Homo sapiens: one gene and its partners. Changing the gene in region 6 together with the main gene of any one other region gives a genetic interaction. Each region holds a gene or a part of one and is shown on either strand. Other genes may lie near its edges. The genes, in order: LETMD1, MTOR, KIF11, DNAI2, TMEM38A, SPPL3 and DNAJB2.

The links.
Region 1: changes in SPPL3 (region 6) and LETMD1 together harm fitness less than expected from each alone (positive genetic interaction), as found in Homo sapiens cells (one large-scale study listed by BioGRID).
Region 2: changes in SPPL3 (region 6) and MTOR together harm fitness less than expected from each alone (positive genetic interaction), as found in Homo sapiens cells (one large-scale study listed by BioGRID).
Region 3: changes in SPPL3 (region 6) and KIF11 together harm fitness less than expected from each alone (positive genetic interaction), as found in Homo sapiens cells (one large-scale study listed by BioGRID).
Region 4: changes in SPPL3 (region 6) and DNAI2 together harm fitness less than expected from each alone (positive genetic interaction), as found in Homo sapiens cells (one large-scale study listed by BioGRID).
Region 5: changes in SPPL3 (region 6) and TMEM38A together harm fitness less than expected from each alone (positive genetic interaction), as found in Homo sapiens cells (one large-scale study listed by BioGRID).
Region 7: changes in SPPL3 (region 6) and DNAJB2 together harm fitness less than expected from each alone (positive genetic interaction), as found in Homo sapiens cells (one large-scale study listed by BioGRID).

What each region holds. Positions count from the first base shown.
Region 1 is NC_000012.12:51,057,373-51,060,924, forward strand, and holds the end of LETMD1 (LETM1 domain-containing protein 1), read left to right. Parts: intron 1-633; coding exon of another isoform or gene 634-659; coding exon 660-756; intron 757-1,231; exon of another isoform or gene 1,232-1,366; intron 1,367-1,988; coding exon 1,989-2,059; coding exon of another isoform or gene 2,060-2,063; 3' UTR 2,064-3,052; downstream 3,053-3,552. UniProt on the Homo sapiens protein: Plays an essential role for mitochondrial structure and function, as well as thermogenesis of brown adipocytes.
Region 2 is NC_000001.11:11,105,284-11,109,496, reverse strand, and holds the end of MTOR (serine/threonine-protein kinase mTOR), read left to right. Parts: intron 1-126; coding exon 127-207; intron 208-1,210; coding exon 1,211-1,316; intron 1,317-1,996; coding exon 1,997-2,012; 3' UTR 2,013-2,962; downstream 2,963-4,213. UniProt on the Homo sapiens protein: Serine/threonine protein kinase which is a central regulator of cellular metabolism, growth and survival in response to hormones, growth factors, nutrients, energy and stress signals.
Region 3 is NC_000010.11:92,599,143-92,603,596, reverse strand, and holds part of KIF11 (kinesin-like protein KIF11), read right to left. Parts: intron 1-4,454. UniProt on the Homo sapiens protein: Motor protein required for establishing a bipolar spindle and thus contributing to chromosome congression during mitosis. Required in non-mitotic cells for transport of secretory proteins from the Golgi complex to the cell surface.
Region 4 is NC_000017.11:74,283,663-74,288,116, reverse strand, and holds part of DNAI2 (dynein axonemal intermediate chain 2), read right to left. Parts: intron 3,078-4,454; coding exon 2,916-3,077; intron 1,141-2,915; coding exon 1,019-1,140; intron 1-1,018. UniProt on the Homo sapiens protein: Part of the dynein complex of respiratory cilia.
Region 5 is NC_000019.10:16,659,242-16,664,353, reverse strand, and holds the start of TMEM38A (trimeric intracellular cation channel type A), read right to left. Parts: upstream 3,216-5,112; 5' UTR 3,137-3,215; coding exon 3,013-3,136; intron 1-3,012. Other genes in the region: SMIM7 (small integral membrane protein 7 isoform 1 precursor), read left to right, coding at 4,244-4,269, 4,354-4,395, 4,907-4,959. UniProt on the Homo sapiens protein: Intracellular monovalent cation channel required for maintenance of rapid intracellular calcium release. Acts as a potassium counter-ion channel that functions in synchronization with calcium release from intracellular stores.
Region 6 is NC_000012.12:120,762,010-120,765,184, forward strand, and holds the end of SPPL3 (signal peptide peptidase-like 3), read right to left. Parts: intron 3,062-3,175; coding exon 2,990-3,061; 3' UTR 501-2,989; downstream 1-500.
Region 7 is NC_000002.12:219,277,233-219,282,165, reverse strand, and holds the start of DNAJB2 (dnaJ homolog subfamily B member 2), read right to left. Parts: upstream 2,801-4,933; 5' UTR 2,648-2,800; intron 2,369-2,647; 5' UTR 2,333-2,368; coding exon 2,268-2,332; intron 1,589-2,267; coding exon 1,479-1,588; intron 449-1,478; coding exon 395-448; intron 228-394; coding exon 105-227; intron 1-104. UniProt on the Homo sapiens protein: Functions as a co-chaperone, regulating the substrate binding and activating the ATPase activity of chaperones of the HSP70/heat shock protein 70 family. In parallel, also contributes to the ubiquitin-dependent proteasomal degradation of misfolded proteins.

The DNA of each region.
Region 1 (3,552 bases), about 70 Mb from region 6:
AGGCATGAGCCACTGCGCCCAGCTCCTCACCTCATTTCTGTGTCTTTTTTCTCAAGAAACTTAGCTAGGGGGAAGGAATTGCCCACAGAAATTTTGGTTTGTATTTCTTTTCTTCTGGCACTTCAGAAAGCAAGGATACTGCAGTTTAGACCTACTATTTTAGCTTATATAGGACTCTTTGCTTTTGTCATCTTGTCCATCACTAGTTTTCAAATTGCCATGAGGAAAGGCTTCATGTGGGAATGAGATTGTAACTTTTTTTTTTTTTTTTGAGACAGAGTCTCGCTCTGTTGCCCAGGCTGGAGTGCAGTGGCATGATCTTGGCTCACTGCAACCTCCGCCTCCCAGGTTCCAGTGATTCTCCTGCCTCAGCCTCCCGAGTAGCTGGGACTGCAGGTGCATGCCACCACGCCTGGCTAATTTTTGTATTTTTTAGTAGAGATGGTGTTTCACCATATTGGCCAGGCTGGTCTCCAACTCCTGACCTCGTGATCCGCCTACCTCGGCCTCCCAAAGTGCTGGGATTACAGGCACGAGCCACCGTGCCCGGTGAGATTGTAACTTATTTAAAGGAGATTTAGGATTGTTTGTGGATTTCCATTTCCTTGGCATAATCATTCTATGATTATTAAGGACCATTTCTGTTCTGAGTGGTATAGGCTTGTTATCTCCGTGGCCTGAATTCTACGCATATTGGTGAAGATAGGTGTCGAACTTGGCTGGGAGAATGGCTGCAGATTTCCTGCAGCCTGAAAGGTAAAACACATTTCTGTGGTTATACCACTAAAATCCAAGTCACTTTTGTATTTTATTCTGAGGTCATTTTGGAGTTAATTATTGAGTACTGTGAGACATATATATACATACATCTAATTGAAAGGGCACAAACTCACATGCCTACTGCATGCCCGGCAGGTAACGAAGTAGGCCATAAGACAAGAGGGAGTAGTGGGGACTGTGGAAACCTAAGAGTGAATGCATGCTAGTGTGAATTTTCCAACCTTGGCACTTCCTTATGGGGGGAATATCCTGTGCTTTATTTATTTATTTATTTATTTATTTTGAGACGGGGTTTCGCTCTTGTTGCCCAGGCTGGAGTGCAATGGTGCGATCTCGGCTCACCGTAACCTCTGCCTCCTGGGTTCAAGTGATTCTCCTGTCTCAGCCTCCCAAGTAGCTGGGATTACAGGCATGCACCACCACGCCCAGCTAATTTCGTATTTTTTTTTAGTAGAGACCAGGTTTCTCCATGTTGGTCAGGCTGATCTCGAACTCCCGACCTCAGGTGATCCGCTGGCCTCGGCCTCCCAAAGTTTTGGGATCACTGGCGTGAGCCACCATGTCCAGCCTATCCTGTTCTTTATAGGTATTTATTATAGCAGTATCCCTAGCCTCTACCCACTAGATGCCAGTAGCACCCCTTCACCCACAGTTGTCTCAACCAAAAATGTCTCTAGACATTGCCAAATGTCCTAGGGGTGGGGAGGAGAGAGGCAGGATTGTCCCCGTTGAGAAGTACTGGTCTAAAGGCATTCAAACTCAGAAAAAAAACAGTCTGCTGACCAAACACAAAGCATCTGAGGGTATGTATTAGGCTTGTTTGCCCCCTGTTTAGGCTAGGTCTTGATGTTTTGTGGGCCTTTGGATGTTAGGGTAGGCCTACTAATCTTGAAGCTGAGAAATGTCCCTAGAGCACCAACTTCTACCAGAAGAATCCCAACGCGACTGGTGTTTAGTACCATTACCATCTCTGAATTTTCTACTGCAATCACATGAGAAATAGAGGATGAGTTGATACGAATATATAGTAGAAGGAAAGGAAGGCATGCATACAGGGGCTGAAACAAAGAAGGGGAACTTTGAGAAAAACAGCTTCTTCATTCCACCCCTCCCTGCACTTGGCTTCCTGCCTCCAGGCTTAAGCCATATATAACAAGGCAGTTATAAGGCAGTGTTCCCAAGCCAAACCACTAACACTGTGTTTTCAGAAGCTGAGCTGTCTCTCTTGCTGCACAACGTGGTCCTGCTCTCCACCAACTACCTTGGGACAAGGCGCTGAATGAACCATGGAGCGGATGGCATTGTCCTGCAGTCGTATAGTATAGCAGTGCAGGAACAAACAGCACTTGCCAGCAAAGTCTGTGTGTACTGTTAAGTGTGTGGGAGGCAGAGAGAGGAGCAGGGGCCATGGGCTTCACAGCATGGCACACATGTGGGAACTGCAGACATTCCTCTCACAGCTAGAACTGAAACAAACCCTCTTGCTAGGGGTGGTCCGTGTGAGGTGTCATCCTGTCCCCCTCATAATTACTAATAGCTGGAACTGGCAGCAGCCTCTACTGGGCTTTTACTGTGATGTGTTCAGTTCATGTCCTAGGAAGTCAGCTTTTGCCCCAGGTGGGAATCCTTATTTGGCTTAGGACTGATCCACTTCCATGTTACTTACATCTGTGGGTTTTTGTTGTTGCTGTTAGAAAATTTGTGGCTGGTGAAAACAGCACTCCTTTGGCTGGAGCACATGTGTCCGTGCATGTACTTGGGTGTTTCCCTCCATCCTTTCTGATATGACCAAAAATCAAGTTGTTTTGTTTTTTGTCACCTTCACTGGCATGGGCTAACCACTTCTTTTTCAAACCCTCTGAACACCTTTTTCTGATGGGTAACTTGCAGGAATATTCTATTGGAAAAGATAACAGGAAGTACAAGTGCTTCTTGACCCCTTCCTCAATGTTTCTAGCCTTCACTCTCCATTGTCTTTTCTGGGCTGTATTACAGCCCTCTGTGGATCTTCAACTCTGCTGCCTCCACTGTGATGCAGCAGTCCAACTGTAACTGACAGTGGCTGCCTTCTCTGGGCCATGGATCACACCTGTAAGGTACTAATTACTGCCCAGCCTGGGGAGATCAGGAGAGGTCTGCATAGTTAGTAAGTTGGGTTTAGCTTTTGTGTGTGCATCAGTGACTTAGAGTTCTGTAATAACTTATTGTAAATGCATGAAGCACTGTTTTTAAACCCAAGTAAAGACTGCTTGAAACCTGTTGATGGAAATGACTTATGCATACTCTAATCATTTTGCTGTCTCCTTTTACAAGACTGACATAATCTAACAAATGGGGATTTAATTGGTTGGCATAGAACCTTCTGATGGGATGGAAGTTTTGCAGAAACTGATTTGAAGTTGATCTCCTTGCTGGACACTTTAAGGTGATAACAAGGAAAAGAGAATTTCATAAAGTTAATGGAATGAGGCCGGGCGCGGCGGCTCACGCCTGTAATCCCAGCACTTTGGGAGGCTGAGGCGAGCGGATCACAAGGTCAGGAGATCAAGACCATCCTGGCTAACACGGTGAAACCCCGTCTCAACTAAAATAGCAAAAAATTAGCCAGGCGTGGTGGTGGGCGCCTGTAGTCCCAGCTACTCAGGAGGCTGAGGCAGGAGAATGGCGTGAACCCGGGAGGCGGAGCTTGCAGTGAGCCGAGATTACGACACTGCACTCCAGTCTGGGCGACAGAATGAGATTCTGTCTCAAAAAAAAAAAAAAAAAAAAAGT
Region 2 (4,213 bases), on a different chromosome or scaffold from region 6:
AAGACGGACATAGAGGAAGGATTGCTTAACACTTACAAAAGTGAATATTTGAGAAAAACAGGGCACCCATTGAACCTGTTGTATTGCTCCCATTCTTACAGTTATTTCTACTTTTGTGTATTCCAGTTGGAGACGGTTTGGTGAAACCAGAGGCCCTAAATAAGAAAGCTATCCAGATTATTAACAGGGTTCGAGATAAGCTCACTGGTGAGTGTGTCATGTGTTTACTTAAAAGGGACATAAAATCTGAGCACACTTTCCTCTCTGAGTGGTGGTCAGCCCCATGTCCAGTGGTGTTAGTGACGAGCTTTGGCACCATGCAGCTGACAAAGAGTGTCTTTGAGGTCATCAGTTAAACATTGTCTCTGATTCTTCTTTCTGATGACTGATAACAGTACTTAATGTTAGTTTAATCTCATTTAACTCAGGAGGTGAATAAATTTCTTTTGGGTCCAAAATCAGCCAAATTCAGAGAAGTGTTTTTTAATCATGTCTTTTTTTTGTTTGTTTGAGACAGTTTTGCTCTTATTGCCCAGTCTGGAGTTCAGTGGCTCCATCTTGGCTCACTGCAACCTCTGCCTCCCAGGTTCAAACAATTCTCCTGCCTCAGCCTCCCGAGTAGCTGGGATTACAGGTGCACGCCCAGCTAATTTTTTGTGTTTTTAGTAGAGATGGGGTTTCACCATGTTGGGCAGGCTGGTCTCAAACTCCTGACCTCAAGTGATTCACCCACCGCACCCGGCCGAATTTTTCTTTTTTTCTTTTCTTTTTTTTTTTTTTTTTTGAGACAGGGTCTTGCTCTGTCACCCAGGCTGGAGTGCAGTGGTGCGATCTTGGCCCACTGCAACCTCCACCTTCCAGGTTCAAGTGATTCTCCTGCCTCAGGCTCCCAAGTAGCTGGGACTACAGGCATGTGCCACCACACTCGGCTAATTTTGTATTTTTAGTAAAGACAGGGTTTCACCATGTTGGCCAGGCTGGTGTTGAACTCCTGACCTCAGGTGATCTGCCTGCCTCAGCCTCCTAAAGTGCTGGGATTACAGGCGTGAGCCACCGCACCTGGCCAAACTTTTCAAATCCAACTATGATGGTATCCTTCATCTTCATGTCTGACGATAAGCTGTTGGCATAGACAGTTAAGCCCACAGGGAACAAGAAGTGCATCGATTGCCAGGAAGAGAGTGAAATGTTTTTGTTCCTCCTGTGCTAGGTCGGGACTTCTCTCATGATGACACTTTGGATGTTCCAACGCAAGTTGAGCTGCTCATCAAACAAGCGACATCCCATGAAAACCTCTGCCAGTGCTATATTGGCTGGTGAGTGGGGCTCTCAAAGTGACTTTGTTAAAATAAGCAATCAGGTCCCAAGCCTAGGCCCCAAAGCCAGAGTAGCAAAAAGAGATTTGGTGAGGTATCTGTAAAGGGCAGTTAGAGCTCAGATCTCTTTAAAAATTCATATTTACTGCATGTGCCCATTGTTATAAAAAAAGAAACTGAGAAATATGGATGCATACTTGGAAGGCAAACACTAAAATTAAAATTACATTAAGATAAGTGGTTCAGGAGAATAGGCAAGGCTTGTTTGTTTGTGAGGGGTTCCTTTTGGGTTTTGCTGTCAGTCCAGTGCAGAGATACAGGAAGGGCGAAGGAAAGAAAAAGCTAGAGCAGTGACAGAGAGAAGGAGATAAAAAGACAGATTTATGATCTGGGAGTCTAACCTCAAGGGCCACTCTGGGGTGTGCTTTGATTAATTGCCCAAGGCATGCTTGAAGGCAGAAACTTGAGAGAGCGGGCGCTGGGGAAGTGTCCTTGCGGGACCTCGGTGGGCATTAGCCTTGACTGGAAATGATGAGTGTGTCCCATGCAATTAGCTGTGGGAGAGCTCAGGGAATACCCTAGGGTTGTCAGACCTTGGCCTTTTCATTTTCAAGTTATCTGTGTAAACCTTTGAAGAAGCTCAAATTATTAAAATATTCCTTTTCTTTCTGCCTTCTTAGGTGCCCTTTCTGGTAACTGGAGGCCCAGATGTGCCCATCACGTTTTTTCTGAGGCTTTTGTACTTTAGTAAATGCTTCCACTAAACTGAAACCATGGTGAGAAAGTTTGACTTTGTTAAATATTTTGAAATGTAAATGAAAAGAACTACTGTATATTAAAAGTTGGTTTGAACCAACTTTCTAGCTGCTGTTGAAGAATATATTGTCAGAAACACAAGGCTTGATTTGGTTCCCAGGACAGTGAAACATAGTAATACCACGTAAATCAAGCCATTCATTTTGGGGAACAGAAGATCCATAACTTTAGAAATACGGGTTTTGACTTAACTCACAAGAGAACTCATCATAAGTACTTGCTGATGGAAGAATGACCTAGTTGCTCCTCTCAACATGGGTACAGCAAACTCAGCACAGCCAAGAAGCCTCAGGTCGTGGAGAACATGGATTAGGATCCTAGACTGTAAAGACACAGAAGATGCTGACCTCACCCCTGCCACCTATCCCAAGACCTCACTGGTCTGTGGACAGCAGCAGAAATGTTTGCAAGATAGGCCAAAATGAGTACAAAAGGTCTGTCTTCCATCAGACCCAGTGATGCTGCGACTCACACGCTTCAATTCAAGACCTGACCGCTAGTAGGGAGGTTTATTCAGATCGCTGGCAGCCTCGGCTGAGCAGATGCACAGAGGGGATCACTGTGCAGTGGGACCACCCTCACTGGCCTTCTGCAGCAGGGTTCTGGGATGTTTTCAGTGGTCAAAATACTCTGTTTAGAGCAAGGGCTCAGAAAACAGAAATACTGTCATGGAGGTGCTGAACACAGGGAAGGTCTGGTACATATTGGAAATTATGAGCAGAACAAATACTCAACTAAATGCACAAAGTATAAAGTGTAGCCATGTCTAGACACCATGTTGTATCAGAATAATTTTTGTGCCAATAAATGACATCAGAATTTTAAACATATGTATATGAGTGGCGTTTTAGTCATAATTTTGATCAGTTCAAAAAGGAAGCATTTACTCTCTTCAGCACTCAGCCTTCAGTAAACACTCTGTAGTAGGGATGACAGAGGACGTAAGGGTGTACGTGACATGGTCCCTTTCCTCAGACTGTTCCCAGGCCAGACAGGTGGAGACAGCATGCCACTGAAGTGAACAGAACTTACCCCGGCCAAGTGCTGAGAAGAGGCATGTATGGGCCACAGGTAGGAGCGTGTATTCCACCGGGTGAGCCTGGAAAGCCCCATAGAAAGGGGGACATTTGGCATGGGTCTTAAAGAGGGGTGGGAGTCTGTCAGATGAACCAAGGGGGGGGCATTCTCAGCAGAAAAGGAAGTGTGAGGCACTGCTGTAAAAGCAAGGTATCCATAGCAGTGGCAAGTATCAGTTGGACCATTTGAAATCACAGGTACGTGGACCATTTTTAATATACAAAACTGGCATTTTCTTATGGCTGCACCTCATAGTTCAGCATGTCTGGCTCAGTGGTCAGTGGGGAATAAAGGGAGTAACAGGAAAATAATAGGAACTAAAGGAGGCAGGAAAGCAGTACGGGGCCGGGGCCAGACCGGGGCCTCCCTCAGTTCAGCAGCAAGGAGTATGAACCTGATGCTGTGAAGTTTTAAAACGGAGTAGTATCTGAGTGGTGTTTTTTGTTTTTGTTTTTGTTGGAGACTGGGTCTCGCTCTGTCACCCAGGCTGAACTGCAGTGGCACAGTCATGGCTCACTGCAGCCTCGGCCCCCTGGGCTCAGGTGATCTTCCCGCCTCAGCCTCCCAATTAGCTGGGACTGCAGATGAGCACCCCCACCGCCAACTAATATTTGTATATTGGGGGAAATTCACCCCCGATATTTCACATAGGTTCTTTTCTATATTCCCTAAGTGTCAGCCGGTCTGAGAAAAGGGACAGAGTACAAAAGAGAAATTTTAAAGCTGGGTGTCCAGAGGAGACATCACATGTTGGCAGGTTCCATGATGCCCCCCTGAGCCATAAAACCAGCAAGTTTTTATTAGTGATTTTCAAAAGGGGAGGGAGTGTACGAATAGGGTGTGGGTCACAGAGATCACGTGCTTCACAAGGTAATAGAATATCACAAGGCAGTGGAGGCAGGGCAAGATCACAGGACCGGGGCAAAATTAATATTGCTAACGAAGTTTTGGGCACGCTTTGTCATTGATAACATCTTATCAGGAGACAGGGTTTGAGAGCAGAC
Region 3 (4,454 bases), on a different chromosome or scaffold from region 6:
GCAGATCACTTGAGGTCAGAAGTTCGAAACTAGCCCTGGCCAATATGGTGAAACCTCATCTCTACTAAAAATACAAAAATTAGCCAGAAATCACTTGAACCTGGGAGATGGAGGCTGCAGTGAGCCGAGACTGTGCCACTACACTCCAGCCTGGGTGAAAGAGTGAGACTCCATCTCAAAAAAAAAAAAATTAGCCAGGCATGGTGGCAGCCACCTACAGTCCCAGCTACTTGGGAGGCTGAAGTGGAGGTTGCGGTGAGCCAAGAATGCGCCACTGCACTCCAGGCCTGGGCAACAGAGCGAGACTCTGTCTCAAAAAAAAAAAAAAAAAAAGAAAAGAAAAGAAAGCAGTTTAAGGGGGATAGGAAGTGTTGAGGGTGGAAGATAGTTGGTTGCTATTTTAGGGTAGTTAGGGAATGCTTCTACGCAGGTGATATTTAAGCAGAACCTAAAAAGCAAGGGAGCCAGGCCCTGTAGATATTTTGGTGGAAAAAATTTTCAGGCAGAGAGAACAGAAATTGCAAAGATTCTGAAGTAAAAGCAGGTAGATGTATTTTTTAAATGTGTGTGTGAAATTAGCCAGGCGTGGTGGCAGGCGCCTGTAATCCCAGCTACTCTGGAGGCTGAGACAGGAGAATCGCTTGAACCGGGAGGCAGAGGTTGCAGTGAGCCGAGATCGCGCCATTGCACCCCAGCCTGGGCAACAAGAGCGAAACTCAGTCTCAAAACAAACAAAAAACCACACACACACACACACACACACACACACACGTGTGTGTGTGTGTGTGTTTAAGTAACCAGGGTTCAAAGACATCACAAGGAAAATTAGAAAATTTTAGAGATTAATGAAAATGAAAATACAACATACCAAAACTTACGGGACACAGCAAAAGCAGTGCTAAGGGGGAAATTTATAGCTATGAATGCTTACATTAAAAAGCAAGAAAGATCTCATATCAACACCCTAACTTTACAACTTAAGGAACTGGAAACAAAAGAACTAGTTATTTGTGTCTTCTCTCTTATTGTTGAAAGAGTATTTTCAACAATTGTATGCCAACAAATCGGATAACCCAGCTGAACAAATTCCTAGAAACACAATACTTACAAAGACTAAATCACAAAGAAATGGAAATTCTGAATGGAGCTATAACCAGTAAAGAGATGGACTCACTAACCAAAAATCTCCTGACAAAGAAAAGCCCTAGATCTGATAGTTTCATAGGTGAATTCTATAAAACATTTCAAGAAGATCTAATACCAGTTCTTCTCAATCTTTTCCCAGAAAAAATCTGGCAAAGGAGAGAACACTTCCCAACTCATTTTGTGAGGCAAGCATTACCCTGATACCAAAGCCAGACAAAGGCAACTACAAGAAAACTACAGATCACTATCCCTTATGAACACTGATAAAAAAAAATCCTCAACAAAATACCAACACATTGAACTGAGCAGCACAAGGATTATACACCATGACCAAGTGGGATTTATTCCTGGAATACAGGGATGGTCCAACATGTAAAAATTGATCAATGTAATATACCACATTAACAGAATGAAGGAAACCACAGAATCATGTCAATCGATGCAGGAAAAGCATGTGACAAAATTCAAAACCCATTAGTCATAAAAATGCTCAACAAACTAGGAATAGAGTGAAACTACCTCAACAAAATAAAAGCAACATATGAAAAACCCACAGCAAACATAATTGATGGTCAAAGACTGAAGAATGTTCCTCTAAAAACAAGAACAGGGCCAGCACAGTGGTTCATGCCTGTAATCACAGCACTATGGGAGGGTAAGAGTAGAGGATCACCCGAAGCCAGGAGTTCAGGATCAGCATGGGAAACATAGCGAGACCCCATCTCTAAAAAAAAAAAAAAAATTATTTTTTTAATTAGCTGGGTGTAGTAGTGTGTCTATAGTCCCAGCTACTCAGGAAACTGAGGCAGGAGGATCTCAAACAAACTAACAAATAAAAGAACAGGAGCAAGACAAGGATGCCCAATGCCCACTTTTGCCACTTCCATTCGACATAATACTGTAAGTTCTAGCTAGAGTAATTAGGCAAGAAAGAAAAACAAGGGCCGGGCATGGTGGCTCACGCCTGTAATCCCAGCACTTTGGAAGGCTGAGGCAGGCGGATCGCGAGGTCAGGAGATCGAGACCAGCCTGGCTAAAACGGCGAAACCCCGTCTCTACTAAAAATACGAGAAAAAAAAAAAATTAGCTGTTTATGGTGGCACATGCCTGTAGTACAAGCTACTCGGAAGGCTGAGGCAGGAGAATCGTTTGAACCCAGGAGGCGTAGGTTGCAGTGAGCAGAGATTGCACCACTGCATTCCAGCCTGGGCAACAGAGCGAGACTCCATCTCAAAAAAAAAAGGAAGAAAAATAAAAATAAAAGGCATCCAAATTGAAAAGGAAAAGGTTGAGGGCCAAGAGCGGTGGCTCATGCCTGTAATCCCAGCACTTTGGGAGGCCAAGGCGGATGGATCACGAGGTCAGGAGTTCAAGACCAGCCTAGCCAAGATGATGAACTCCCATCTCTACTAAAAATACAAAAATTAGCTGGGCGTGGTGGCATGTGCATGTAATCCCAGCTACTTGGGAGGCTGAGGCAGAGAACTGCTTGAACCCAGGAGGCAGAGGTAACAGTAAGCAGAGATGGCGCCACCGCGCTCCAGCCTGGGCGACAGAGCGAGACTCCATCTCAAAAAAAGAAAAAAAGAAAGAAAAGGAAAAAGTAAAATTATCTGTCTGCAGATTATATGATCTTTTATATAGAAAATCTGGCCGGGCGTGGTGGCTCACACCTATAATCCCAGTACTTCAGGAACCCCAAGGGGACTTGAGGTCAGGAGTTTGAGACCAGCCTTGCCAACATAGTGAAACCCTGTCTCTACTAAAACTACAAAAACTTAGCTAGGCATGGGCGCATGCCTGTAGTCCCAGCTACTCGGGAGGCTGAGGCAGGAGAATCGCTTGAACCCAGGAGGCAGAGGTTGCAATGAGCCAAGATTGTGCCACTGCACTCCAGCCTGGTGACAGAGCGAGAGTCTGTCTCAAAAGAAAAAAAAATAGAAAAGAAAGAAAACCCTAAAATTCAGTGGGGCAAAAGGAGCTAGAGCATCAAGAAGAATAGCTAGTGGATGCTGGGCTTAATAGCTAGGTGATGGGTTGATCTGTGCAGCAAACTGTGATGGCACAGGTTTACCTATGTGATAAACCTGCACATCATGCACATGTACCCCAGAACTTAAAAGTTGATGAAAAAAATAATAAAAATAAGGCCAAGTGCAGTGGCTCACGCCTGTAATCCCAACACTTTGGGAGGCCGAAGCGGGCGGATCACGAGGTCAGGAGTTCAAGACCAGCCTGACCAACATGATGAAACCCTATCTCTACTAAAAATACAAAAATTGGCCGGGCATGGTGGCGAGCGCCTATAATCCCAGCTACTCCGGAGGCTGAGGCACAGAATTGCTTGAACCCGGGAGGCGGAGGTTGCAGTGAGCCGAGATCACACCACTGCACTCCCGCCTGGGCAACAGACCGAGATTTCATCTCAAAAAATAATAAATAAATAAATAATAATAATAATAATAAACAGAAGTTCAATAGTTAATTAAAAAAAAAAAAAAGCCAGGCACAGTGGCTCACGGCTGTAATCCCAGAACTTTGGGAGGCTGAGGCAGGTGGATCACGAGGTCAAGAGATCGAGACCATCCTGGCCAACATGGTGAAACCCCGTCTCTACTAAAAATACAAAAATTAGCTGGGCGTCGTAGCGTGTGCCTGTAGTCCCAGCTACTCGGGAGGCTGAGGCAGGAGAATTGCTTGAACCTGGGAGGTAGAGGTTGCAGTGAGCCGAGATCGCGCCACTGCACTCCAGCCTGGCAACAAAGCGAGACTCCATCTCAAAAAAAAAAAAAGAAAAGAAAACTCTAAAATTACACACACACAAAAAAAAACTGTTAGAACTAATAAGTGAATTCAGCAAAGTAGCTGGATAGAAAGTCAACAAGCAAAATCCAGCGACGTTTCTTTTTTCTTTTTTTTTTTTTTTGAGACAGAGTCTCACTCTGTTGCCCAGGCTGGAGTACAGTGGCACGATCTTGGCTCACCACAACCTCCACCTTCCAGGTTCAAGCGATTCTCCTGCCTCAGCCTCCTAAGTAGCTGGGACTACAGGCACGCGCCACGATGCATGGCTAATTTTTGTATTTTTAGTAGAGACAGGGTTTCACTATGTTGGCCAGGCTGGCCTTGAACTCCTGATCTCGTGATCAGGAGTTGGGAGGCCCACCTTGCCTCCCAAAGTGCTGGGATAACAGGTGAGAGCCACTGCGTCCAGCCTCCAGTTACATTTTTATACACTAAGAATGAACAATCTAAAAAGGAAATTACAAAAACAACTCAATTTAAAATAGCACCAAAAAGAATAAAAT
Region 4 (4,454 bases), on a different chromosome or scaffold from region 6:
GCAAAGACAAAAAATGGTTTAAGTTGGGGACTGCCACAAAAAGTGGCACTCTGCACACCCTGTTCTGCACCGGCTTTGTTTTGGTTTGGTTTTCACATACTGAATCCTGGAAATGACTCCATATCAGCACATAAGAAGTTGCACTGCTTTTTTTTTTTTTTTGAGACAGAGTCTTGCTGTATTGCCCAGGCTGCAGTGCAGTGGTGCGATCTCGGCTCACTGCAACCTCCGCCTCCCAGGTTCAAGTGATTCTCCTGCCTCAGCATCCCGAGTAGCTGGGATTACAGGCATGTGCCACCACACCCAGTTAATTTTTGTATTTTTAGTAGAGACGGGGTTTTGCCATGTTGGCCAGGCTAGTCTTGAACTCCTGACCTCAGGTGATGCACCCGCCTTGGCCTCCCAAAGTGCTGGGATTACAGGCGTGAGCCACCATGCCCAGACTGCCCCGCTCGCTTTACCAGGTGCATGGCATTCCGTCGTGTGGGTGTGCCAGAACTGCTAGAACCAGTCCCCTATGGATGGACTTAGCTTGTTCTAGTCTTTGGCTGGCATACACCCTCTGCAGTGAATATCCACGCCTGCGGTGATTTCACACACACACACACACACAACCTGTGGGATGAATCCCTGGTGTCAAACTTCTATCCTCTGGAGTTATTCATGGATATACTCGCATGAGTGCAGGCCGCGGCGGGGGCCTGTGTGCCCACAGTGCTGCTAGCTGCTCATGCTTGGTACTTGTACTTACTCTGCCCTGCAGGAACATGCCCCACCTGTACGCAGCTGGGCAATTTCACTTTCTCTGGAGTCTGTACTCCCTTTCCATCAACCAGACCCGCCCCCAGAGCAGGGCCACTTCTCTGCTGGGTGACTTATCACCACGTCACTTATCAAGCTCAGAGCACAGACAGTGCTGCACCCAGGGCATGCAGCGATGGCAAGGAGTTGCCTTTGGAGGCGCCCATGCATGGGGGTGACGGAGGGTGGCCAGACACCTGCCTGGCTATGGCGCTACCTGAACACATTGATGGTTTTAGCTGAAGGGTCCTCCTCCATCACTTCCATGGCCTCCTCGTCATTGAAATACTCTTCATAGATGTCAATGGCATTGTTCTGCTTGATGCAGTGCTCCATGATCTAGGGGGGACACATTGGAAGTTCTCCGCAGTAAATGGAGGTCCTTTCAGATTGCCCAGGCCTGCAATGGAGTCTGGGAGGGACAGGACATAGCCAGGGGCTTTTCCCATCCACCTAACCATGTGCTTTCAATGGAGGAATTTTCAATTGGTTCCTGGGGGTAAAATAATATTGCTTTTTAGGTACAAAGCATGGAAATACATGCAGCGCATGAACAGATATACAGTATGTCTATAGCATTAACATTTGATGGGCTGGGTGCGGTGGCTCACGCCTGTAATCCCAGCACTTTGGGAGGCCGAAGCGGGTGGATCACTTGAGGTCAGGAGTTTGAGACCAGCCCGGCCAACATAGTAAAACCCCATCTCTACCAAAAATACAAAAGAAAATTAGCTGGGCATGGTGGCAGCCGCCTGTAATCCCAGCTACTTGGGAGGCTGAGGCAGGAGAATTGCTTGAACCCGGGAGGTGGAGATTGCAGAGACCCAAGATCACGCCACTGCACTCAAGCCTGGGTGACAGAATGAGACTCTGTCTCAACAACAACAAACATTTTATGGAGGCAGAAGGCCATTAGAAAAAACATGAAGGCCAATAATGAAGAAAAGGTTGAAGAACACCATGCTAGACAAACAAAATTATTATTATTATTATTATTATTATTATTATTATTATTATTTTGAGACACAGTCTTGCTCTGCTGCCCAGGTTAGAGTGCAGGGGTGCGATCTGGACTCACTGCAGCTTCCGTCTCTCGGGTTCAAGCAATTCTCCTGCCTCGGCCTCCTAAGTAGCTGGGACTACAGGCATGTGCCACCACACCTGGCTAATTTTTGTATTTTTAGTAGAGATGGGGTTTTGCTATGTTGGCCAGGCTGGTCTCAAACTCCTGAGCTCGAGTGATCTGCCTGCCTCTGCCTCCCAAAGTGCTGGGATTACAGGTGTGAGCCACCAAGCCCAGCCCAAATAAAATTATTAATCTCTCTCTCTCTCTCTCTCTCTCTCTATATATATATATGTGTGTGTGTGTATATGGCACTCATCTCCTTCTTCCTGTCCTTGCAGACAGCTGGTTCCTCCATCCAGAATGCCCTCCCCTTTATTGCAAATGTCCACCAAAGGACAACCAAGCCCTGCCACTTCTTCCAGGAAGCCTTCCCTGTTCCCTTCAGCAGGAGATTGACCCTCCCTCCTCATGGAGTCAAAGGACAAGTCATGCTTCTCTTTCAGCATTTCTTTCTTTTTATGTTATCTGGTGATGTCTCTGTATTTGTCTTTGACCTCCAATGGACTGCAATCTCTTTGGGACAGGATGTATAAGAGATTCTTTTTCTTTTAATTTAAATTTTAAATTTCTTTTTCCTTAAAACAATTTTTTTTTTTTGCACTGGCAAGTATGTAGAACAATTATGAGATTCATTTTGCAACCTCTACTGTGCCTGGCAGAGGCTTGAAGTTCAGTCCAAATTTGTCAAATGAATGAATGATCCCTATTGGCTGCTGGGTGGGGCACTTTGGGAGTCACCTTTGCCCAAGGTCAGACTCCTCCTGATGCCTGGTCAGCCCTTGTACCTCCCTGCCTTCCCTGTTGGTCTGTGATTGGGACCTCTGCCTGCTCCCAGACAGAAGGCTCCTTGAGGTAGCAGCTGGTCCCCTTCCCCCCAGCATTCACACGAGCCTCACAGCGATGGCCAGGCACAGCTGGGGCAGTGCATCCCTTGGGGAGCTGCAGTGATGGATGGGGCTCTTGCAGCTGGGGCAGGAGGAAGCCTTACAGAGCCGAGCTGCATGATGGCGTTAACGTAGTTCTCATCTTTCTCCACTTTCTTCCGGAAACGGATGGTCTGCTCCAGCTCCAGGGGGTTCACGTCCTTGGGCCAGCCCCCCTCGACATGGTTAACTCCCCGGGTCTCCATCTCAAACCGCTCTGAGTTGGCCTAAACAGAGAGCCGCAGGAGGGAAGACGTCACCCTGGTATACTCCCAAACCCTCGGCCACTTCTGCAAGCCAGGTCCCACGGGGGCTCCCAGGGCTGGATGCTGAGGCGCCCTGGCCGGAGCCACAGTATTTTCAAATGCAGGCAAGGAAATTCCTGGTGATCAGGTGGGCACAGGTAGCTGCAACAGCGCAACCCTGTGGAGCTAAGCAGCTTTGCAACTGGTAGCTGTGGTCATGAAAATCCTGTTCTGACCTTATCTGAATTCTAATGGACCAGAGAAGCCTGTCCATCTGCTCTGTGAGAATCCAAAGAAAAGGTGAATAATTGGCCGGGTGCAGTGGCTCACACCTGTAATCCCAGCACTTTGGGAGGCCGAGGCGAGCAGATCACGAGGTCAGGAGATCGAGACCGTCCTCGCTAACACGGTGAAACCCCGTCTCTACTAAAAATACAAAACATTAGCCGGGCGTGGTGGTGGGCGCCTGTAGTCCCAGCTACTCGGGAGGCTGAGGCAGGAGAATCACTTGAACCTGGGAGGCAGAGGTTGCAGTGAGCCGAGATCACAGCACTACACTCCAGCCTGGGCGACAGAGCGAGACTCCGTCTCAAAAAAAAAGAAAAAGAAAAAAGAAAAAGTGAATAGCCTTTCTTCACTCTATCATTAACAATGCCACCCTATCACTGACAATGTCAGTGTCACAAAAATTGAACGTTAAAACTCCAAGTTTGGATTTGCTTTGCCTATCCTCTCTAGCAGGGAGGACAGTTTTACACGTGGGTGTCGCCACTTTCCCTTCTTTCCTTTTTTTTTTTTTTAAGAGAGGGTCTCTCACTCTGTTGCCCAGGCTGGAGTGCAGTGGCATGATCTTGACTCACTACAGCTTTTTTTTTTTTTTTTTGAAAAGGAGTTTCGCTCTTGTTGCCCAGGCTGGAATGCAATGGCGGAATCTCGGCTCACTGCAACCTTCGCCTCCTGGATTCAAGTGAGTCTCCTGCTTCAGCCTCCCCAGTAGCTGGGATTACAGGTGCTCGCCATCATGGCCGGCTAATTTTTGTATTTTTAGTAGAGACGGGGTTTCACCATGTTGGCCAGGCTGGTTTTGAACTCCTGACCTCAGGTGATCCACTGGCCTCAGCCTCTGGAAGTGCTGGGATTACAGGCATGAGCCACTGCGCCCGGCCAGTACAGCTTTGACTTCTCAGGCTGAAGGGATCCTCCAGCCTCAGACTCCCAAGTAGCTGGGACTACAGGCATGTACCACCACACGTGGCTAATTTTTGTTTTTGTTTTTCTTCTGTAGAGACGGTGTTTCGCCATGTTGCCCAGGCTGGTGTCAAACTCCTGAGCGGAAGTGATCCTCTCGCCTCTGCCTTC
Region 5 (5,112 bases), on a different chromosome or scaffold from region 6:
CCTCCGTCTCCTGGATTCAAGCTATTCTCATGTCTCAGCCTCCCAAGTACCTGGGATTACAGGCGTGCGCCACCACACCTGGCTATTTTTTTGCATTTGTAGTGGAGACGGGGTTTTGTCATGTTGCCCAGGCTGGTTTCAAAGTCCTGGGCTCAAGTGATCCACCCGCCTCGCCTCCCAAAGTGCTGGGATTACAGGCATAAGCCATCACATCTGGCCTCCAACACCTTTCTTTTCTAAGGAAACCAATCTCACATCAATTGTACTGATTCTTAGAGTCAAGCAGACCTGGGCTGAGTCCCGAGGCTGCAACTGACCAGCCATGGGACCACAGGCTCATTGTGTATTTAAGATAGCTTAGCCACTATTTCCTGTTTCCCCAGTTATGAAAGGAGGAGGTTGAACTGGGTGGAGTATCCTCAGCCCTGATAACAGACATCAGTCACTGAGGGAGGGGAGATTAATATTCTGATTCAATTGGTGGGGGGTGGAGATAGGGGGTTTAAAAGCTCCTAGGAGGCCGGGCGCAGTGGCTCACACCTGTAATCCCAGCACTTTGGGAGGCCGAGGCAGGCGGATCACAAGGTCAGGAAATCGAGACCATCCTGGCTAATACGGTGAAACCCTGTCTCTACTAAAAATACAAAAAAAAAAAAAATTAGCCGGGCATGGTGGTGGGCGCCTGTAGTCCCAGCTACTTGGGAGGCTGAGGCAGGAGAATGGTGTGAACCCAGGAGGCGGAGCTTGCAGTGAGCAGAGGCGGCGCCACCGCACTCCAGCCTGGGCGACAGAGCGAGACTCCGTTTCAAAAAAAAAAAAGAAAAGAAAAAAAGCTCCCAGGAGCGTCTCATGAATTCATGAATAGCCAGGGTTTGGAACCACTTCTCAGCCTTCAGGAACCTTCAGGCTCTGGCACTTAGAGCCTGGATGGCTTATTCTAGGACTTCTGCAGAAATATCTTGAACCTTCCTGCAAGTTCCCAGGCAGCTTGGAGACCTCTTTTCTCAAGACATTTGTGTCCTACATTCCCACAGGGCTCCAACCCTCCTCAGTTTCAGATTTTTTTTTTTTTCGAGACAGAGTCTTGCTCTGTCGCCCAGGCTGGAGTGCAATGGCGTGATCTCGGCTCACTGCAACCTCCGCCTCCCAGGTTCAAGTGATTCTCCTGCCTCAGCCTCCCAAGCAGCTAGGATTACAAGCATGTGCCACCATGCCTGGCTAATTTTTTTATTTTCAGTAGAGACGGGGTTTCTCCATGTTGGCCAGGCTGGTCTCGAACTCCTGACCTCAGGCGATCTGCCCGTCTTGGCCTCCCAAAGTGCTGGGATTACAGGCGTGAGCCACTGTGCCCAGCCAGTTTCAGATTTTCTAAGGTTCTGCAACTGCCCAAGGAACTGGCCTGAACCACCAAGAATTCTTCCCCAGAAAGGAAAGATAGCCCCATGTTCATGCTAGGACAACACAAAAGCCTATTTTGTTTTGCAAAGTAATGTTCTCCAGGATAGCTTTTAAGAAAATAGGCTCTGGCATGTGGATAGGCAAAAATAGAATAAAAATTCCTAGCAAATAGAGTGTAATCCTGTTAGCATAAGAGCGTGCATTGGCTGGGTGCAGTGGCTCACGTCTGTAATCCCAGCACTTTGGGAGGCCTAGGTGGGTGGATCACAAGGTCAGGAGATCGAGACTATCCTGGCCAACATGGTGAAGGCTTGTCTCTACTAAAAATACAAAAATTAGCCAAGTGTAGTGGCGGGTGCCTGTAGTCCCAGCTACTCAGAAGGCTGAGGCAGGAGAATCGCTTGAACCTGGAAGGTGGAGGTTGCAGTGAGCCGAGATCACGCCACTGCACTCCAGCCTGGGCGACAGAGCGAAACTCCATCTAAAAAAAAAACCGCAAAAAAAAAAAAAAAAAAAAAAGCGTGCATTTACGTTTATAACTATATAGCCGTAAATGAATAGAAGAGACATCAAGAAAGGTGGCTGGCCACCAGTATGTTGACAGTAATTCTCTTTTTTTCCTTTGCCCTTTTCAGTTTGAGTTTTTAGTAAACAGGGGCGCTTATTTTTATCCTCTGAGAATAAAGCTATTTCCTTTCTGAGCTATAGTGGTAATTTACATCTAAGTGGGAGAAAGGCTTATGAAGTTTGGGGTTCCTTTATTTTTCTAAGCCTAAAATCTATTATCTAGTAAGTTGCTGGTGTTCTAGAATAACGGTGAACAAGAAACATTTAAACATTTGTTCACGGTGAACCTTTTATAAAAATAGAACACGTTCTAAGGAAGCCATTCATCCTCATTTTAAAAATTAAGAAGCAGGCTGTACCCTCCTGTGACCTCCCCAGCGTGGAGTCTGGAGCTGAGATGGAGGACACTGACCCCAAGTCACCCAGCCTTGGGGCCGGTTCTGCTCCGTAAGTGGAAAGGATCTGGAGCCAGGGCTGGAAGAATTCCCGTGGGGGCTCGGAGATTCAGCACCGTGGGGGAAGGGAGGGGAGTGGAGGGTGCTGGGCAGTTGCAGTGGGGAGGAGAACCGGTGTCACTTTCGCTGAACCTGACCGCAGCCCCCAGCGCAGTGGCCCTTATAGACACTCCGCTGGCGCTCTCAATCCGCGTGCCAAGGTCAAGGAGGGAGGTCACACCTGCGCGCGGCCAGAACAGATGCACCGACCCCCACCTGCACCCTCGCCACAGCCGGCGCCCCTTGCCCAAGTTCCTGCAGCTCTGACCCAACCAGGAGCCCCGACCCCAAGCACCTGTTCCCCCTCCTCTAAACCCGCGCACGCCTCTCCTTCCCCTCCCCCAGCTTCATCGTCCTGGGGGCTTCTCCCCCGGGCTCACCCCGGCGTGAGAGAACCCCACGATTCTAGCGCCTGCCTACTCCCACGATGCAATCCTTGAACCTGTCCCTCGCTCCCTCCACCACGCACGGGCTTCCCCTCTCTGCGACCCCCGAGCTGCCCCGGCCCGCGCCACCCGCTGCCGGTCCCCTCCAGCCCCCCGCCCCGGCTCACCTGGCTCATACTTGAGGTAGAGGATGGAGACGATGAAGTAACTGAGGTCGAAGACGGGGAAGAGCGGCACCCGCGAGAAGCTGAGCGCCAGTTCGCCCAGGCTCAGCGCCGAGAGCAGCTCCATGGCGCCCGCCTGCCCGCCTGCCGGGTGCCACCCGGGGCCCCGGCCTCGTCCGTCCCGCCGCCCGCGGCCCGGCGACTGCGCCCCCGCAGCTGGGCCCGCCCCCGCCCGCCAGGCGCCACCCCAGGCCCGGCCCCCGCGGGAGAGGAGGGGCGACGGCCCACCCCGGGACAGGTGGTGGGGACGCCCAGCACCACGGACGCAGCTGGACGGTCGGGCGTCCCAGGCGTTGACCCTCCTGCCATCGCTACCCCGTTCCGCCCAGCGAGGCGGGGTGCGGGGCACCCGTGCAAGGCGAGGGAGGCTGGGGAGCTGCCTGTTCTGGGGGCCCGTCCCTCACGGAGCCCACCCACGCGGGACGCCCGTTCCCAGGGGGCCGGATCGGCCAGGACTTTGTCCCCGTGGGCTCAATTAGGACCCCGATCTTCGGTGGAGCCCAGTGAGGACCCCTACGCCATGGTGGGACCCCATGAATCAGAACCCCTGTTCCCCGTGGAGATAGGTTAGGACCTCGGTCCTCTGTGGAGCCCCGTCAAGACTTTTCTGCCCCATAGGGTCCGTTCGATCAGGAACCCCGTCTCCGGTGGGGCTCTGCAAATCAGGACGTCTTGTGGGGGGCAGCTCAGTGGGAACCCCCGTTCCCCATGGGGCCCAGGAGGATCTCATTTTAGAGCCCAGTTGGTTGGGGCACCCGTTTCTAGGGACCCCACTGCGTCAGGACCCCGCACCCTGTGCAGCTCAGGAGTCAAAGGATTCCTTTTGTCCAGAAGCCCAATTTGGGACCCCAGAAAGTGAGTAGGAATTGCTGCCCAGCTAACCCTACGGCATCGAGACCTCACGCATGCGCGGCACGCTTCGAACGCGTGACCCAATCCCGCCCCCAGGAGACCCCGCTCCTCCCATTCTGGCTCTCGGGGCCTCCCCAGCGAGGTGGGGCGCTCGCGCTCCCCTAAGGGGGTCTGGCCTGCAGAGGGCGGGACCCTCCCAGCCTTGACCTTCGATTGGCCCAGCCCTCGCCACTGTTGCTTTAGGATTGGTCGGCTTGTGCTCCTCTCCCCTCCCTCCCTGGGGCTTCCGCTTCCGGTTCTGACGGACGCTTCGGCCGTAACGATGATCGGAGACATCCTGCTGTTCGGGTAATTAGGGGGACCAGAGGCTGGGAAGAGAGAGCCAGGCAGGACGCGGGGGCGCCCCTAGTAACTGTAATTCTCCCTCTGCAGGACGTTGCTGATGAATGCCGGGGCGGTGCTGAACTTTAAGCTGTGAGTAGGTCGCGGCCGGACTGCGGCTCCATCCGGGGAACCCGTAGCCCCGCCCTCATAAGCGTGATCTCGGCGCACTTCTCAGGCCCCGCCCCCAAGCCGCAGGCCCCGCCCTATCCGCCCTCTGGGCACGCCTCCAGCCTGGTTTATCTTCCTCGCCCCCCACCCCCCGAGAGACCTTAAACCCATACTCTCCGTTCCTTGGTTGTCCCTCTGTTCACCTTCCTGGAGAGCTTAAGCCCCATCCCCCAAGAAATAGCCCCACCGCGGACCTTCCGCCCTGCACCCGCACTGTCGGGCCACTTTGTAAACGGTCGGTGGCTGCTGACCTGGCTGTGATTGTCCGGGCAGTGGGGGCCCAGAGAAGGGTATTGAACGTCAGAGGTCACACAGCAAGTTTGCGGCAGGGCCAGGGCTGAAACTTAGTGTTTGTGGCCTTCTGAGCTGGGGGTCAGGGGGCTGAGGACTCTATGTCCCATTGAAAGTGGACACTGTCTGCTCCTCTTTGTAGGAAAAAGAAGGACACGCAGGGCTTTGGGGAGGAGTCCAGGGAGCCCAGCACAGGTAAGGTCTAATTGGATCCTGGAATTGCATGGTCCACTTCAGAGGACAGTTCTGTTTCGCCAAGCCCTACCTTCGTTTTCTTTCTTTCTCTTTTTTTTTTTTTTTTTTTTTTGACACAAGGTCTTGCTCTGTTGTCCAGGTTGGAGTGCAGTG
Region 6 (3,175 bases):
TGCACTGTAATAACAGCAATGGAACACACTAGGCTTTGGACAGACTTTACTGTCATATCTTCATTAGCTCAAACTAGAAAAAAGAGTTATTAAAAAGCGGGAGTTCTAGTAACACACAGTCTCTTTGTGAGGAAAAAGGACTTCAGATCAGTGAGGAAGGAATCTGCTGAAATTTCATGAGCATGCCATGCCTAATGCAGCAGACTTCCTAGAAAACCCCTAAACCATGGTATTTGAGAAAACAGAATAAGAGGCGGACCTAAGTGTATCAGGCAGCGGGGAGCAAACGAGCACTGGAAGGGAAGTCTAATGTGTGCTTTAACTGCAGCCACCCACTCAACCCTCCGAGACGAGTAGAGTATTTGCTGTTTCTCTGCCAAAGTTTTAAGGGAGTGTTTTAAGGGCTTTGAAGATTAGCAACTGGAATCCAGGGTGCATTCACAGCCCTGTGTGGGTATTTCCCCCCAAAACCTGCACAGAAGTGAGAATGACAAAATAACGACGTTCCTTCTGTCTGGAATTTAATTTTCTTATGAAAACAAAGACAGAAAAATTAAAATGACCCACTGCCAGGATAACATTTCCTTTTTTTTTTTTTTTTTGAGATGGAGTCTCACCCTGTCGCCCAGACTTGAGTGCAGTGGCGCAATCTCTGCTCACTGCAACCTCCGCCTTCCAGGTTCAAGCGATTCTTCTGCCTCAGCCTCCCAAATAGCTGGGATTACAGGCGCCTGCCACCATGCCCAGCTAATTTTTGTGTTTTTAGTAGAGACGGGGTTTCACCATGTTGGCCAGGCTGGTCTCGAGCTCCCAACCTTGTGATCCACCTGCCTCGGCCTCCCAAAGTGCTGGGATTACAGGCATGAAGGATAACGTTATTTCTACCCATCACTGGCACTTGCCCTTAATCCGAGTCATTTTGGAGCCCCCCTCTCTGTCTCTGGGCCTGCTTAATTAGCTATATGCATCCTCGAGGGCTGAGAAGGAAGGAAGGGAGAGTCCGCAAGTGGATTTTTAGTCTTCACCCAATGCAGAGGCAGTTTTGAGTTCTGTGGACAGCAGAAGCTTCAGTTCTTTGATGTATCTATGACTGGGCCAGAGCTGCAGATGACCAGGTCTGGGGACAGACAGAGTCTTCCCATCAGTCTTCCAGAACAGGGAGGAGATGGCTGGGAGCTCTGTTTGGTACCAACAACCAAAGTGAAGATTATGTGACAAAGGCTACAAAGGAGTCATTTATTAAAAACAAAACCCCAGAAACCCCTCAGCAGGAATTGATGACAACAACAGAGGAATCCAACACCCTGACTGCTTCAGACTCTGTTGACAACAGGATGGGTGCCCCCTGTGAGCTCGATCCACAGTGACTTCAAGCCACAGTGACACAGCACACTAATTCATTACACAGGTCAAGACAGAGGCAGCCACTGGGGCGGGGACCCTTGGGGAGAGGCTGGAACTCAGGGCCCTTCTCCAGCCTTTGTTGTCAGGCATCCTCATGCCAACCGCAGGCTTCTCTTTGCCTCTGAACAATGGGCACCTTCTTACCAGGCAGGGGCTGCTTAGGTAAAGGTCAGCAGACCTAACACTAGTTACTCCCAGAAATCTGGGCTTGCAGCAGAGACCACAGCACAGGGCCAGGCTCTCAGGACACAGCAGCTGGTTCTTTCCCCAGTTACTGGAATTTAGGGCCCATCTCAGAGGGGCATTTGACATGTGTCCCCAACACCCGGTTGTCACCACAGGTAAACCAAGACTATAATCACAACAGCAAGGACAGGATTGTGTTGCTTTTTTCCTTTTTTTTTTTCTTAAAGGAGTGAGGGCATGGAAAATATACAGCACACCAATGAAACAAAATGTCAAAAAAAAAAATACAAAAAAATAGAAAATAGAAAAATGTATTTACAAGTAGTACGTTACTATGATGAGAAAGCACAAAGACACCTGCTGCTATAATACATGCATTGGCTCGAGAAGAAACTACGGAACACCCTGCGAGGGAGAAGCCTAGAAAAGAAAGAAAGGGCCAAAAGGTTTGAACTCTTCATCCCTAATTTGCTACACTGATCAAAACCAAGTAAGGGCTCCTGAAGTCCATGAGTCTATCATCAATCAGCACAAATGCTATACTAGTTTGTAACTGCGGGGTCAGTTGTGAAGGGGAAGGACAGCAGCTTATCCATATACAAGGAAGCCACAGTAAACTGCTCGACATGCTCAAAACGACAGCAAGCCCCTGTCAGCTACACAGCGTGATCTTAGCAGGATTTCATTTTTGTTTATTCATATATATCTATGTGTGTGTTTATATATATATATGTACGTATGTATAAAAACCGTGCCCTTGTTCACTGCCAACACAACATCTGGGTGGACATGAACTCATTACAACAAATTCTTATGTGGATGTTGTAAGAAGTCACTCAATGTCTGTGGATTTAATAAGTCACTTCACACCACAGAAAATATTTAATAAATCCAAAAAAAGGAAAGAAGAATATAACGACAGAAGAGCTTCTGTCTCAGTTCTCTGAAACTGAGTCCCCTATAGGAAACTGGTCCCAAAGTTCTCGAGGGGTCATTGAAGAAACTTCGGTTTGCTAATTTTTTTCATCCTTTTAGTGTTCAAAAGTTCTAGAAAGACTCCTCGCTGTTTTCAGTTTTTAAACAGTCAAATCTCCATCTCCCCCAGAAGGTAACAGTCTGGTGCAGATCCATAAAAACGTGGGAGGAAGGCGCGCTGGGGAGAGGCCTGTCCCTCTTGGAAGGGGCCCCACCTCTACATCCGCAGGAAGAGAAGGAACCAAACAGGGCTCCAGCACCTCTCTCCTGCAAACGAGCTCCCTTTAAATGCCAAATCCAGTCACACGGCAGTTCCTTAAACACAGGTACATTTCTGAGTACCAGGCCAGCTCTAAGAGGAAACAAACCATGAGTTGAGAGAAAAGGACTATGACGGCCATCTGGTCACTTTCCACGTGATCCATCATACTTCCAGGAATCGGGAGCTGCTGGACTTGGAGTGGAAAGGCTCAGACCACATCCGCCGGAGGTCGCCCTGGGAAACAAGGGACTTTCTAAGTTACAGATTTAAACATGAGGCACACACAGCTGTCTGATTCTTTAAAAAAAAAAAATTTTTTTTCCAGGTATGAAGTCTTCCTATATATTG
Region 7 (4,933 bases), on a different chromosome or scaffold from region 6:
TTCCCGTCCCCTCTCAGCCTTCCACCTCAGGGCCTCCCAGCTGATGGAAGGACAGGCCTGGAGGGGGAAGTTGAGCCATTCAGAGGCTTCCAGAGTCCACTCACCAAAGAGCTCTGCAAAAGGGTCTCCACTCCCAAAGAATTCCCGGAAGACCTCCTCGGGGCTGCGGAAGGTGAAGGTGAAGCCAGGCCCACCACTGCCAGCTTCTGCCCGAGATGGGCCAGTTCCTGGAAAGGCAGGATGAGGAGAGAGCTTAGGGCATGCATCCTGCCCTGAGCGGGGGACCTCACCTAAGGCACAGCCAGGAGCCTGAGAGAGCCTCCATTGCAAGAATCTGCCCTGCCCCTCTCCTCCCTGCCCCACCTCCATTCCTGGGCCTCACCACTCCACCTACCTGTCCCTGTCAGCCCTTCCCGGCCATAGCGGTCGTAAATCTCCCGCTTGTGCTCTGCAAAAAGAGACCAGATCATTTCACCCTCCCTCTGGGATGGGCTCCCCTCCCAGGCTAGGACGTTCAAAGGATTGTCCAGAGACTGACACTCTGACACTTGGCGGGGGAAAGCAGGCACAGCAGGGGACCCAGGGGACACGGGCTATAGGTTTAGGCAGCAACTCAGCCTTTCACACAGCTGGCCTCTTCTCATCTGGAAAATGGCTGTCATCACAACACCTACCGCACAGGGTTGTTGCACAGATCAAATGAGACCATCCACGTAAACTGCCTACCAGTGCCTGACACATAGAAAGTGTTCAATAAATGTTAGCTAATGATTACTACATTATTATTCACCAGGGCTTAGCCTAAATGTCACCTTCTCGGAGAGGCCTTCTACAACCACCAGAACTAAAGCAAGTGCACATTATTCCCTAGCACTCCACCTGCCCTGTTTCTTCCCTCGGAATACTCTTCACAAGCTGTAACTGTGTCTGTGTGTGTGCCTGGTAGGTGTTGGTCTTCCCTGCCCCTCTGGGCAAAGACAGTGCCTGCTTGTCCTCCAGTTTCCCCAGCACCCAGCGAGTGCCGGACACTGTCACCATTCACTGAATTACTTTTCGAATGAATCAATAAAAAGGCAGACCTGGATTCATATTCCAGCTCTGCGTGGCCTTGAGCAAGTTACTTCACCTCTCTCAGCCTCAGTTTCCTTGCCTGTAAAATAGGGGTGATAGAACCTGCCTCATAGGACGGCTGTGAGAACTCATGGAGATGACACCCACCAATGCCTGGCACGCAGGAGGCTCAGCTCACATGAGTTACCTGCCCTGCTTCCTTCCCCTTTCAGGTCTCATGCCAGCCACTCCTACCAGACTCTGGGGAGCAGACACTGAGCTGTCCCTGTGGGAGGGGGGAGCTTAAATGTCAGGCTGGAAAAAGGCACAGAGGAAACTAGGTGGCAGAGACATTGCTTTAAGAAAATGTGAGCTGGGGCATGAAGTAGGGGGTGATGTGCTGGGTCCTGCCTGACCCCGGCCCTTACTGTCAGACAGCACTTCATATGCCTCGGCCACCTCCTTAAATTTCTTCTCAGCAAACTCTTTATTATCTGGGTTTTTGTCTGGGTGCCACTGGAGAGCCTTGCGCCGATACCTGCAGAAAGTGGGTGCAGAGGAGAGAGTCGGGGGACAAATGCAGGCACTTCCCACCCAGGAACCGAACGACCTGTTTTCCCATTAGCCTATCACTGTCCTTTCACCCCCGGGTCCCAGTCCACCCCAGCTGCTAGGGCTGCCGCTGCTGTGATATTTTCATCAAGTTCCACCCTCTCTCCTCCGCCACCAGTGCTGGGACCACATGTACAAGCGGATACAATGCCAGGGTCCCTAGCCCCTCCCTAGGGCTCACTGGACTGGGGCTGCAAAGGTTGGGGCACATGTGGCCTCGAAGAGTACAGGGACACCGGCCCCTCCTCCTCATAGAGCCTCTTTGCACTGCATCTTTGCACTGCAGCCTGAGAATGCCCAAATCTAGGGGGAAGGGGGAGGGGAGGGGAAAGGAGGAGGAGGAGGAGGAGGAGGGGAAGATCAACTGGAGAACAACCCATAACACAGTGCAGCTCCCAGAGGAACTAACTACTTCACTCTCTGGACGTTCTCCTTGTACTCTACCAGGGGTCTCTTTCCTCCCTGCAGGTGTCACTCGGAAGAAGCACCCCAGTGCTTTCTAACGACCTGGTTCCCTCAGACACCTACAGGTGTCACTCTGAAGTGCCCCATGGTGGTGGCGGGTGGAGGGTGAGAGGTCTTCTGTTGCATACGGAGGCACTTACGCCTTCTTGATGTCATCAGCGGACGCACTTCGCGGCACGTCTAGGATCTCGTAGTAGGATGCCATGGCAACTGGTCAGTCGTCAGGCGGGCCTCCTTGGGGCTGCAGAAGAGAAGGAGTCAGGCGGAAAGAACCAAGAGCCCCACCCTGTGGCTGCAGCAGTCCCCCTCCCCGGGTGGCGGAAGGCGCTCCCAGTTGGAAGCGGAGCACACCGGGCTCTGCTTGCGGCCGGTGACTAGGCTCCCTCCGGCAGCCTTATCTGCCCCCGCAGGCCGGGGCCAAGAGCTATCTCGACGCCCAGGCCCAGGAGCCCTATCGGGGCCCCCCAACTCCAGCAGTCCGATCCAGGGCCCCCAGCCTGACCCGGGCCCCCGGCCGCACCTCCTCCGCCAGGAGTCCCGGCCTCCTGCGGCGCCCCGCCCCTGCCCCCCGCCGGGAACCGTCTGGCACCCGCAGCCCGGCTCGCGGCTGCTGCGTAGGACGCGCCCGGCCCAGCTGTGCGCGCAGGCATGCGTCAGCGGTGCGGAAACTACTAGAGACGGGGAGAAGGCCGGCTCCGCCTGTCCCCTGGGGGGGTGGGGGCCTGCAGGGGCTGCCGGGAGAAGAGGGCGGAGCCGGCTATTTTGGGCACACACCAGGACGACGTCAGCCCCAGCTGGGACCTGGGAGACTGCGGCCCCGCCTCCATCCAAGCGAGAAGCGCTCGCACGGAGGCTGGGGCAGCCCACAAACAAGCCGCTCGGCCCCCAGGTTCCTCTGTCACTTTCTTATAAACATGAGCGATGATCCATGCTTACTCACCCACCTCGAGGACTCAGACTCTTCCCTCCCTCCCCCCACCACGGTTCTAACTCCTCCCCCTTCTTCAGCTCCCAGCTCCAGCCCCAGGTCCCCCAGCAGGCTGCCCTGGCTTTCCTGAGTAGGTCAGAACTGCCTTTTACAGCATCTCGTGGCATTTCCTTCATCAGGCTTGTTAGAGCCACAAATTAGCATTTATTGGTTTGATTATTTTTTATTACCATTCACCTCCCCCACTAGAATGTCGATTTCACAGGACAGGAATTGTGTGTTTTTTCTCACTGGTCTATTAGAGCAGTCGTAGGGGTTCAAAACTACCCGTGGGATGAATAAATAATGAACACCTGCAAACCTCTTGTTGACAGTTTTGACACATTTGGGGGAGGTGAGGTAAAGGGGGCCGTACAACGGAATTCCCCAGGTTCAAGTCTTCCCAAACTGATCCTGAGTAGGCCTATTCCACTTCAAAATGCTCCCTGGGTTCAGGCCTCATTGGAGAGTTAGGAAACCTTCCAGAACTGGCTCCTGCTTGATCCCATCCAGGCCAATCCAAAGGCGTTAGCTGAGCATTTTTCTGCATTCAAGATGCTGCCAGGCCGTATAAAGAAGAATGTGGCCCAAGCCCTGCCTTTGCAGAGCTTGAACTTGATAAGATACCAGCCCATCAGTGTAGCCCGCTGGGAAACCCGAGGCTTTGGAAACAGAGTACAACCTGGCATTACTGTGAGACTTGGGAAAATCTCTGAGCACTCTTTTTTTCTCACTAAATATAGGTAGTGCCTAGGGTTGTTTGAAAGTCAAATGAGACATGGTACGAATTAGGTGTTACTGCGGTCCTGCTGGCATCGTGATTGGCTCAAGCAATAATGGTTATGTGAGTCCAGAAAAGTGCTTTAGGCTGGGGGACCCAGGAATACTTCGCCAACGAGAAGGGTTTGAGGCGGACGTGAGAGAAGAAGGTGGTGTGAGTGTCCTGGTTTCCTGGCTGCCCACCATCAGAACCTCCTGCCTACATTTGGGGAATTCCCATCGCAAGGGCCCTAATGGAAAGCAGGCCACCATTTGCCACAAAGCCCCAATGCTTGCTCTCCCTGACTCGGCTCTGGGGTTGCAGGCAGAAGACATGAGCTCCGCCAATCGGATGCTCCAACTGGGACTTTGAATCTGGAGCAAGTCACGGAATAGCAAGGCTGGTTTAGGAATTCATTTCTGCGGCGGCGGTGGAGGCGATGGGGCCAACAGCGGCCTCTAGTGTCTGGAGGAGGAAGTGTCAGCGCTACTGCCGCAGGTGAGGGACGAGAGTAGGAGGATCACTGCGGAGGGTGGAGGGGACAGGAGTCTCCTACACAGGCTGTCCTGTGCCCAACCTTGACTGTGGTACTGGCTGCCCAGCTTCCCTAGGTGCCTGTCTGATTGCTGACCCTTGTTTGCTGGCCCTTGCATTGATTCTGTGTGCTATCCGATATCTCTATAATTGTTGGGGGCAGGGGACTTGAAACAATTTGCCAGTTAGCTTCTGCTGTTTATAAGAGTCCTGACTGACACAAAGACTAAGGGTTAGACTTGGTATAAGAGGAAGGAGTGGTTGGGTTAAGTCACTCCAAATTTTCCAGATCTCTGCCTTTTTCTTCTTACTCTGCTGTGCCAACAGACATTTGTCTAGCACCTACCGTGTATGTCTTGTTATATTAAGAAAAAGAATATAAAAAAGTTTAAATTCCAATCTCTGTGCTCAAGGGGATAGGACATAGACAAATGACAACTGAGGGAAATTATATGGAGCACATCTAGCAGACAAAGGTTTAATTTCCTTTGTCCACAAAGAAATGCCAACTAATGAAAGACAATGACATTTTTAAATGGACAAAG